2 linked regions of the Homo sapiens genome follow. The protein of the gene in region 2 interacts with the protein of the main gene of each other region in a biochemical or structural test. Each region holds a gene or a part of one and is shown on either strand. Other genes may lie near its edges. The genes, in order: ITGB1 and NGF.

Evidence for each region.
Region 1: the proteins of NGF (region 2) and ITGB1 form a complex in vitro, tested with the Homo sapiens proteins (one study listed by BioGRID).

Annotation. Positions count from the first base shown.
Region 1 is NC_000010.11:32,920,171-32,923,993, forward strand, and holds part of ITGB1 (integrin beta-1 isoform 1A precursor), read right to left. Parts: intron 3,571-3,823; coding exon 3,415-3,570; intron 2,566-3,414; coding exon 2,470-2,565; intron 2,177-2,469; coding exon 2,087-2,176; intron 216-2,086; coding exon 75-215; intron 1-74.
Region 2 is NC_000001.11:115,289,548-115,293,370, forward strand, and holds part of NGF (beta-nerve growth factor precursor), read right to left. Parts: intron 1-3,823. UniProt on the Homo sapiens protein: Nerve growth factor is important for the development and maintenance of the sympathetic and sensory nervous systems.

The sequences.
Region 1 (3,823 bases), on a different chromosome or scaffold from region 2:
GTTTCTCAAACTATAAACTAAATTTGCTTATAAATAACCAATGTTTTCTACAGAAAATGCTTTATACAACATACCTCATCTCCAATGGAAATATTGGAACATTTTCTTCCATTTTCCCCTGTTCCATTCACCCCGTTCTTGCAGTAAGATTTGTAACTTATTGTTACGCCTTCTGACAATTTGCCGTTTTCCAAAATGACTTCTGAGGAAAGGGACTAAAAGAATGCCTAATTATACACAGGAAAAGTCAAACAAAATGCTACTTGAATGCATAAAACCAATGGATAAACTGCTCAGAAAAAAATATATTTCAATAAAGTATCTACAAGCCAAATCCAATTGAGTAACTAGAAAACACAGAGGCCAGAGAAACAGGTTTTAATTAATAAGGATCAAATCTTTAAAATAAAATACACAATTGAAAAGAGTATTCCTGTTTTAATCACTGAGTTAAAATACTCAGGATCACACAGTGCAGAGGGCTGTTACTAATTAGGAGGAGTCTTAAAAATGTGGAATAGGCCGGGTGTGGTAGCTCACACCTGTAATCCCAGCACTTTGGGAGGCCAAGGTAGGTGGACTGCCTGAGCTCAGGAGTTGGAGACCAGCCTGGCCAACACAGTGAAACCCCATCTCCGCTAAAATACAAAAAAAAAAAAAAATTTATCCAAGCATGGCAGTGTGCACCTGTAATCCCAGCTACTCGGGAGGCTGAGACAGAAGAATCGCCTGAACCCGGGAGGCAGGGGTTGCAGTGAGCCAAGATCACACCACTGCACTCCAGCCTGAGCAACAGAGTGCGACTCCATCTAAAAAACAAAAACAAAAACAAAAACAGAAACCCCCCAAAAAAAAACGAAATAAATGCTGTCTTCCCCATCGGCAAAATGGCATTTCTGTAGTCCTACCTCTCCAGCTAACTATGGACTAGGGTAAACAATCAACTATGCAGTCTAGGAACAAATTTGCTTAAGGAACCATTGTAGCCCAGCCAAAAAAAAAAAAAAACAAAATCCCCCAAGAAGGAAGGATTCAAGCCAGGGCTTGTTTAACATATGAGACTATTCAGGACAAATGGAGAAGGGTACAATGGCAAGCTATCTCTTGTTCACACCCCTGAAAGAACAAGAGTTAGGAAAATTATCTAAGACAGGGGAGAATGGGAAAAGCTGTGGAACAAGTAAAATATTAAAAACCTTTATAAAAACCCCTCCAAGTCAGGCCTTTCCAAACCATTATGGTACCCCATAAAAAAGGGAAGCCTCATATGGTAGGCTGGCCTTTCCAAAGCGTTATGGTACCCCCATGACATGAAGTAAAAATGTCTAAAATTCAAGCTGCCAAAGGGTTAGGGGGATGGGGGCTGAAAGTGGTGCACGAGACACACAAGGGTTACCTACCAAATTACAACCGCCTTCAGATTATTTAAATGATTATTAATGAAGGCTAACTCGGTGTGATTAAAGTACACTGAATTATGCTCAAAAAGGATAAGCCAATTCCTCTTTAATTTCAATTCAACTTCCTCCCATCTGTGAGGGGAAAACAACACTATAAATCTTTTTGAAATAGGCAAATCACATGTATATTTACATTTTTATATATTTTATGGTATACGTATATATGAGTGTGTACCTCCTGAAATAGAAACCCATATCCTCTGAATATATGGGAAGAGAAGAATTGGCAAAAAAAAAAACTTTTCTAGCACAATTCATCAGAATAGATGACTCTATAAAGGATATTTTGGGGAGGAAAAAGATTGGAGAAATCCTGTAAGTTTAAATGTAAGTTATGTTTTACAATTGCTTTCTAACAAGGAGATCTATTCCTTAATGATAAACAAACAGTTATTTGGAAATACTCCCCACATGCCTTTATCACATTTTCACTTTGTTTAGGCCATGAATCTTGCTTTTGTAAGACAATATGTATAAAGTTTTTCCTCTAGATACATACAGAATTTAAGTTTTTCTGTAGTACTTTGGGCTCGCTAAAGTGTGTATGAAGGAAGTTTTACTTTCTTTGTACAAAGTATTCTCAACAGGGTATTGTCCAAAACTGATCTTATTTAAGATGTACTCACATTGTATGCATCAATGATCAACTGAATTACATTGCTAGAATTTGCAGATAATGTTCCTACTGCTGACTTAGGGATCAAGTTTTTCAGCTCCTGCAATTAAAAGATAAAACACGTAAAATACAACTGCTATTCATTCAACCAATTAGGATCCACTGAGCAACTTTTATCTTTAAATGCCAGTTCCCATGTTTCCTCCTAACTAACTTTAGGAGTCAAACCTAGAAACCAGTTTTATAATATGTGATTAAAAATTAATATAAACCACTTTTGTAAAATTCGGTTTGCCTATCTGGTGGCATTTTCCCACATTTCAATTCAGACATGATTTGCCTCTAACAATCAAAAATGTTTAGAATCTTGTTCTTTTTATCTCACACATTTACCTTGTAAACAGGCTGAAATTCTTCAGTAACTGCAAAAATTGTCTGAATATTATTTTCACTCAGTTTCTGGACAAGGTGAGCAATAGAAGGATAATCCTAAGAAATCAAGTAATATAATTTAGTATTTAAATACACCCTTATAATCTCTTCTAATTTTTCAATCTAGTTATACATGCAAGATTACACATAACTCGATTACAAGACTGCTTTAGATAACTAGATTACATATATAATCCATATATAGCTAGATTACATCTAGTTGCATACATATAACTAGATTACAAGACTGCTTTCAAATAACAGTATCAAATATAAACTGCTGAAGTGAGTCGTGTGTATACATGAATTGCTAATCCTCTTCTCTTTACTTTCATGTATGAATAAAAAATTCCATATTCAAAAGGTTTTAAATAGTAAGTTTATCTATGTATATTAAATATAAGGACAATGAAATTAAAGAATAGTCAGTAATTAAATATTCTATTATCTACAACTTAAGAAAAAGACCAAGATTTACCATTTGGATTTCTTCTAGAACTTGAATGCTTTGCCAATATTTATTTTCAATAAAGGCAGAGTGACTGCTTTTAAAAATCGTATAAAACAAAGAGTATGAGACTAGATAAATTATTTATTTAGAAAGAGTACTGACTGTGCTACCAAATGCTGTGGGCGGGGAGTTGAGGCAAAGAGTGAAAGTGGCATCTGGGCATCCCTTTCCCACCCCAGTGAGGCCCTTGTCTGAGCAGAAGGAAGCAAATACAAAGCTGCATCTTCACAAACAGCAACACTAGCTTTCCTGCACTTTCAATCAGGACCCCTACTTACCAAAACAGCAAAACCTCAAACCCTGAGAAACCCCAAGCCAGTCACCCACAAGCTCTTAGTATTAAACATTAAAATCCAACATAAACACATTCACTATGTAAGGAACCAGGCACTTACATAATAATGGCTCATTGTGTACATATTATTTTCCAGGTGACATTGTCCATCATTTGGTAAAACAATGCCACCAAGTTTCCCATCTCCAGCAAAGTGAAACCCGGCATCTGTGGAAAACACCAGCAGCCGTGTAACATTCCTCCAGCCAATCAGTGACTTGAAAAGAAAAGGATTTCAATTTTAAAACACTATTCACAGTAATTCAACAAAAATCCTTTAATTTTCATATAGGCCACCATTGTATTTTTAACCTAATTCTGTATTTTCTGTGTCTTCTCTTTATACAATGGTAATTATCTTGCTGAGAAACACACAAAGCCCACTGAATGAAGCTCTTCCATCCCATGTACAACGATATCTTGCCTGACCATCCGTATCTCTCAATCTCTCAGTTCTTTTTAAAAACTGT
Region 2 (3,823 bases):
TCCTGCTTCCTGAGGGCAATTCTCCATAGATACTGGCATTTTAAATGCAAGACATCCAAAACAAAAATCTTCATACTCATAATCATAATTAGGATCATCTTCTCCCCATCTTCCTTCTCTGCATACAATAGCAACAGCCCCATTTTGGACCATTTGATGATAGTTTCACAGCTACCATCTCTCTTGATCCTCTCTCCTCATCTCCCTAAACACGCTTCTTCACAGTTTCCTTTTTCTGTTACTGGAACCATCATTCATTCATCCACTAGCTCCATACCTCTGCTTATCCCTCTGCTTTTTCCTCCCTGACCTCCATCCAGCCCTTTTGGTTCTGGTTTGGTAGCATTATCTTGAAACTGTATTTTATCTTCCATTCTCATCTCTGGGCCCCTAGTTCAGGTCATGGGAACAGTCTCCCACCTGATATCCTGGACCCTCATCTCTCTTCTTCCAATTCCTCCTATCCCTGGCCACCCCATTTAGCTTCTTAAAGCCTGCTCTGATCATATCACCCTGCTCAAAGGAGCTGGTGCCAAGTCCCTTGTCTGTAAGCCAGTAGGGACTGCTCTGCCTGGCAATGGGATCCTGCCTCCTTCTACTCCCCTCACATAGTTTGCATTCCGAGTGCACAAAACTCCTGGGGGCAGTTCCTGCTTGAGCTTCCCCACCACTGCCCTTTTTCAGACTCTTCCCTTCCAGGTATGCTCCCCTACCCTCTCAGGGCCTTTTCTGCTCTCCACCTCTGCTGGTGGAATCCTTCCTGTTGTCCTTCAACAACTTCAATGCTGCTTCCCCTGGGGAGCTTTTTCTAATTCTGAGACAAACTACCTTCTCTCATCTTTTTTTTTTTTTTTTTTTTTTTTTTTGAGATGGAGTCTCGCTCTGTCACCCAGGCTGAAGTGCAGTGGCTTGATCTCGGCTCACTGCAGCCTTTGCCTCCTGGGTTCAAACAAGTCTCCTGCCTCAGCCTCCTGAGTAGCTGGGACTACAGGCACACGCCGCCACGCCTGGCTAATTTTTCTATTTTTTGCAGAGGCGGGGTTTCACCATGTTGGCCAGGATGGTCTTGATCTCTGATCTCGTGATCCGCCCCCTCGGCCTCCCAAAGTGTTGGGATTATAGGCGTAAGCCACCACGCCCTGCCCCTTCTCTATCTCTTAAAGCCTTCCCTTTATATTCTCTTAGGGCTGTTGTATTCTTTTATCCTCCCTTCTAGAGGACAAACTCCCTGTAGGCAGCAAAGTGTCCTACTCATCTTTGTTGCCCCCAGGTGACCTAGAACTCCTAGGTAACTCCTCCTCTAAGAAACTGTGAGTATGTAGACAAGTCTCCTGCCTCCAGTGTTCCTTAATTCTCCATCTGCATGATGATGTTAAAGGTATCTTCCAACCATTATATTCTTTCATTTCAGGTAATTATGAAGTTTTCTACCCTGCCTTGCATCTGCTGGTTTGACTGAACTGACTTCACAAAGTTCCTACACTCTAACACTACTTTTCCACTCACAGTCAAGATACCAAATGGTATCACATTTAATCACAATGGAGATTTGTATCACAGGCAGAATGTTTCATTAAGACTTGAAAATGTCTCAAATATATCTCTCATTTAGATTTTAGGTTTAAAGTTTTTTTAAAAAAATATTTAATTTACTCATGAGAGTGTGTTCCTATAAACTTTTAAGTTTAAAAAAAAACTCTCTTAAAAGTGATCAGTAGATAAAAGAAAAATTGAGTGCATTTTCTATTCTAGTGATATAATGCACCATTTAGAAAAGAACATTCTTTTTATTTTTGGTTGATGTGAACCAGGGGAGAAGTTTTATTTATTTATTTTTTAAAAACACCCTTTGAAGCCTTTCTCCTGAACAGATGACAGCTTTCTGTCTGGCTTTATTAAGCAGAGCTCTGCAAGCTGAATGATCAGCTGAGGAGGATGCAGTTAGGGGCTCACATGAACGAACATGTTCTATTTAATATGAGAATGCTCTTTAATTGTCCTACTCCTACCTAGAATGGAAGATCCATGACTAAGAGTGGGGCAGCCCATTGGGATGCCTTTACAACCAGCCACTGATGGGCTGCCCTGCCCTCTTGCCCTCTTCTGAACCAGCGATACATTCTGTGGATTTCCAATGGTTCACACACTCCAATAATAGGATAAATTTCTCGCACGAGGTGAATGATCTTCAAAGATTCTGGCCTCACCTGAATAGGTGATGGAGCTGCTGAACAGAGCTAAGCAACTGGCCCAAATATTTGTGGTTAGGAGGGCTGATGGCACTGGGAGGCTTGGCAACCATGCCTGGGGAGATGTGTTGTAGAAGGGAGTGAGAGAATTCCTGTCTTAGAGACAGCCATGCCAAGAGCCACGAGTGATTCTTGGGCTAGAGATGGGATACGTGAACCAGGGTCACTAACAGTTGGTGAGAGAGGAAATTCTTGTGGCCAAGGAAATCCAGCCTCCTCCTCCTCCATCTCATTCGCCACATTCTGAGAGTGGGCCAAGGGTCATTTCTTGTTTTACGCTTGGCCTTCACTCTAAATGTTAACTGGCTGCTGTCTTCAGTTGTAAAGGCTCGAATACTCTTGGGGGTTGGAGCTGGTGTGGAGTGTGGGAGGAATTCTGTGGCTCCTCATTTCTCCAGCAAGGTACTTCAGAGGTGTCCTGGGGTGGGCTGAACAGAGAGAGGCATCGACAGAGTAAAATCCAGAGCTTCTGTTAGGACAGGATTTATTGGGAGGAGGCATGGCCTAGAAGGTACATCAGAGATTCAAGTCCAGAGGCTCTCAAACTTCAGGGCATCAGAATCACCTGGAGAGTTTGTTACACTATAGACTGCTGGGCCCCATCTCCAGAATGCTCGATTCTGTAGGTCTGGTAGGAGGACACTAAGAATCTACATTTCTAGTAAGTTTCCAGATGATGCTGATGCTGTTGGTCTGGGGACCATATTTTGAGAGCCACGAGTCTAGCCTAATTCTTTAACTTTGTAGAAGACAAAAATGAGCCTTGGAGAGGCTAAGTGACTTGGGCTTTTGCAGCCAGTGAGTGGCAGGGCCAGTCCGTGAACACCTGACTTGAGCTCAGCTTTGCTATCTTTTAGAGGAGAGAGGCCTGAAGCCGTATGCACACTGTAACTGATAGGTGGTGGGGTGAGTATACTCATCCCCCAACATCGAAATGAAAATTCCATTCAACAGATTGTAAGTTTTACCTTCCTGATGCCATAAATCCAGATATTAGGGAATATTTAGATATTGAATTGTTTTCATATCTGCTTTGTTAGGTTTCTGGGCACCGTGTAGACTTGATCTAAAAGCACTTGAAATGCCCATGATAGAAATATGCAACCAGAAAACACTAGCAGGTACCAGCGCCTGTGGGGTCACTGGGCTCTCGGAGGGCAGCTGTGCTGGATACATTAATGGGAACCAAATCTACTGATCTGAATTCTAAAAGACATACCTTGACATGAATGAGCTGAGATAATAGTAATTATTATTTATTGGGTATAATTTTCTAATTAACCATTACACAAACCTGGGAGGTTGGCCATATTATTCCTATTTTAACAATGAGAAACCAGAGATGTAGTAAGATTAAGTAATTGCATCACAGGTACACAGCAAACAGAAGTGGAACTCGGAGCCACACCTCCTGTGTGCAGATTTGGAACTCTTCCCTACCCCTCTACTCCACTGGTGAAGGGCACAAAGAGTGGCTGTGAACCTTCCATTTTGCAAGTTCCCTGCTCAGTCGGACCAGAGAGTTGTGTGGAGGGTCTGACTGACGCTGTCTATTCGAGGTCCTGTGTTCGGCA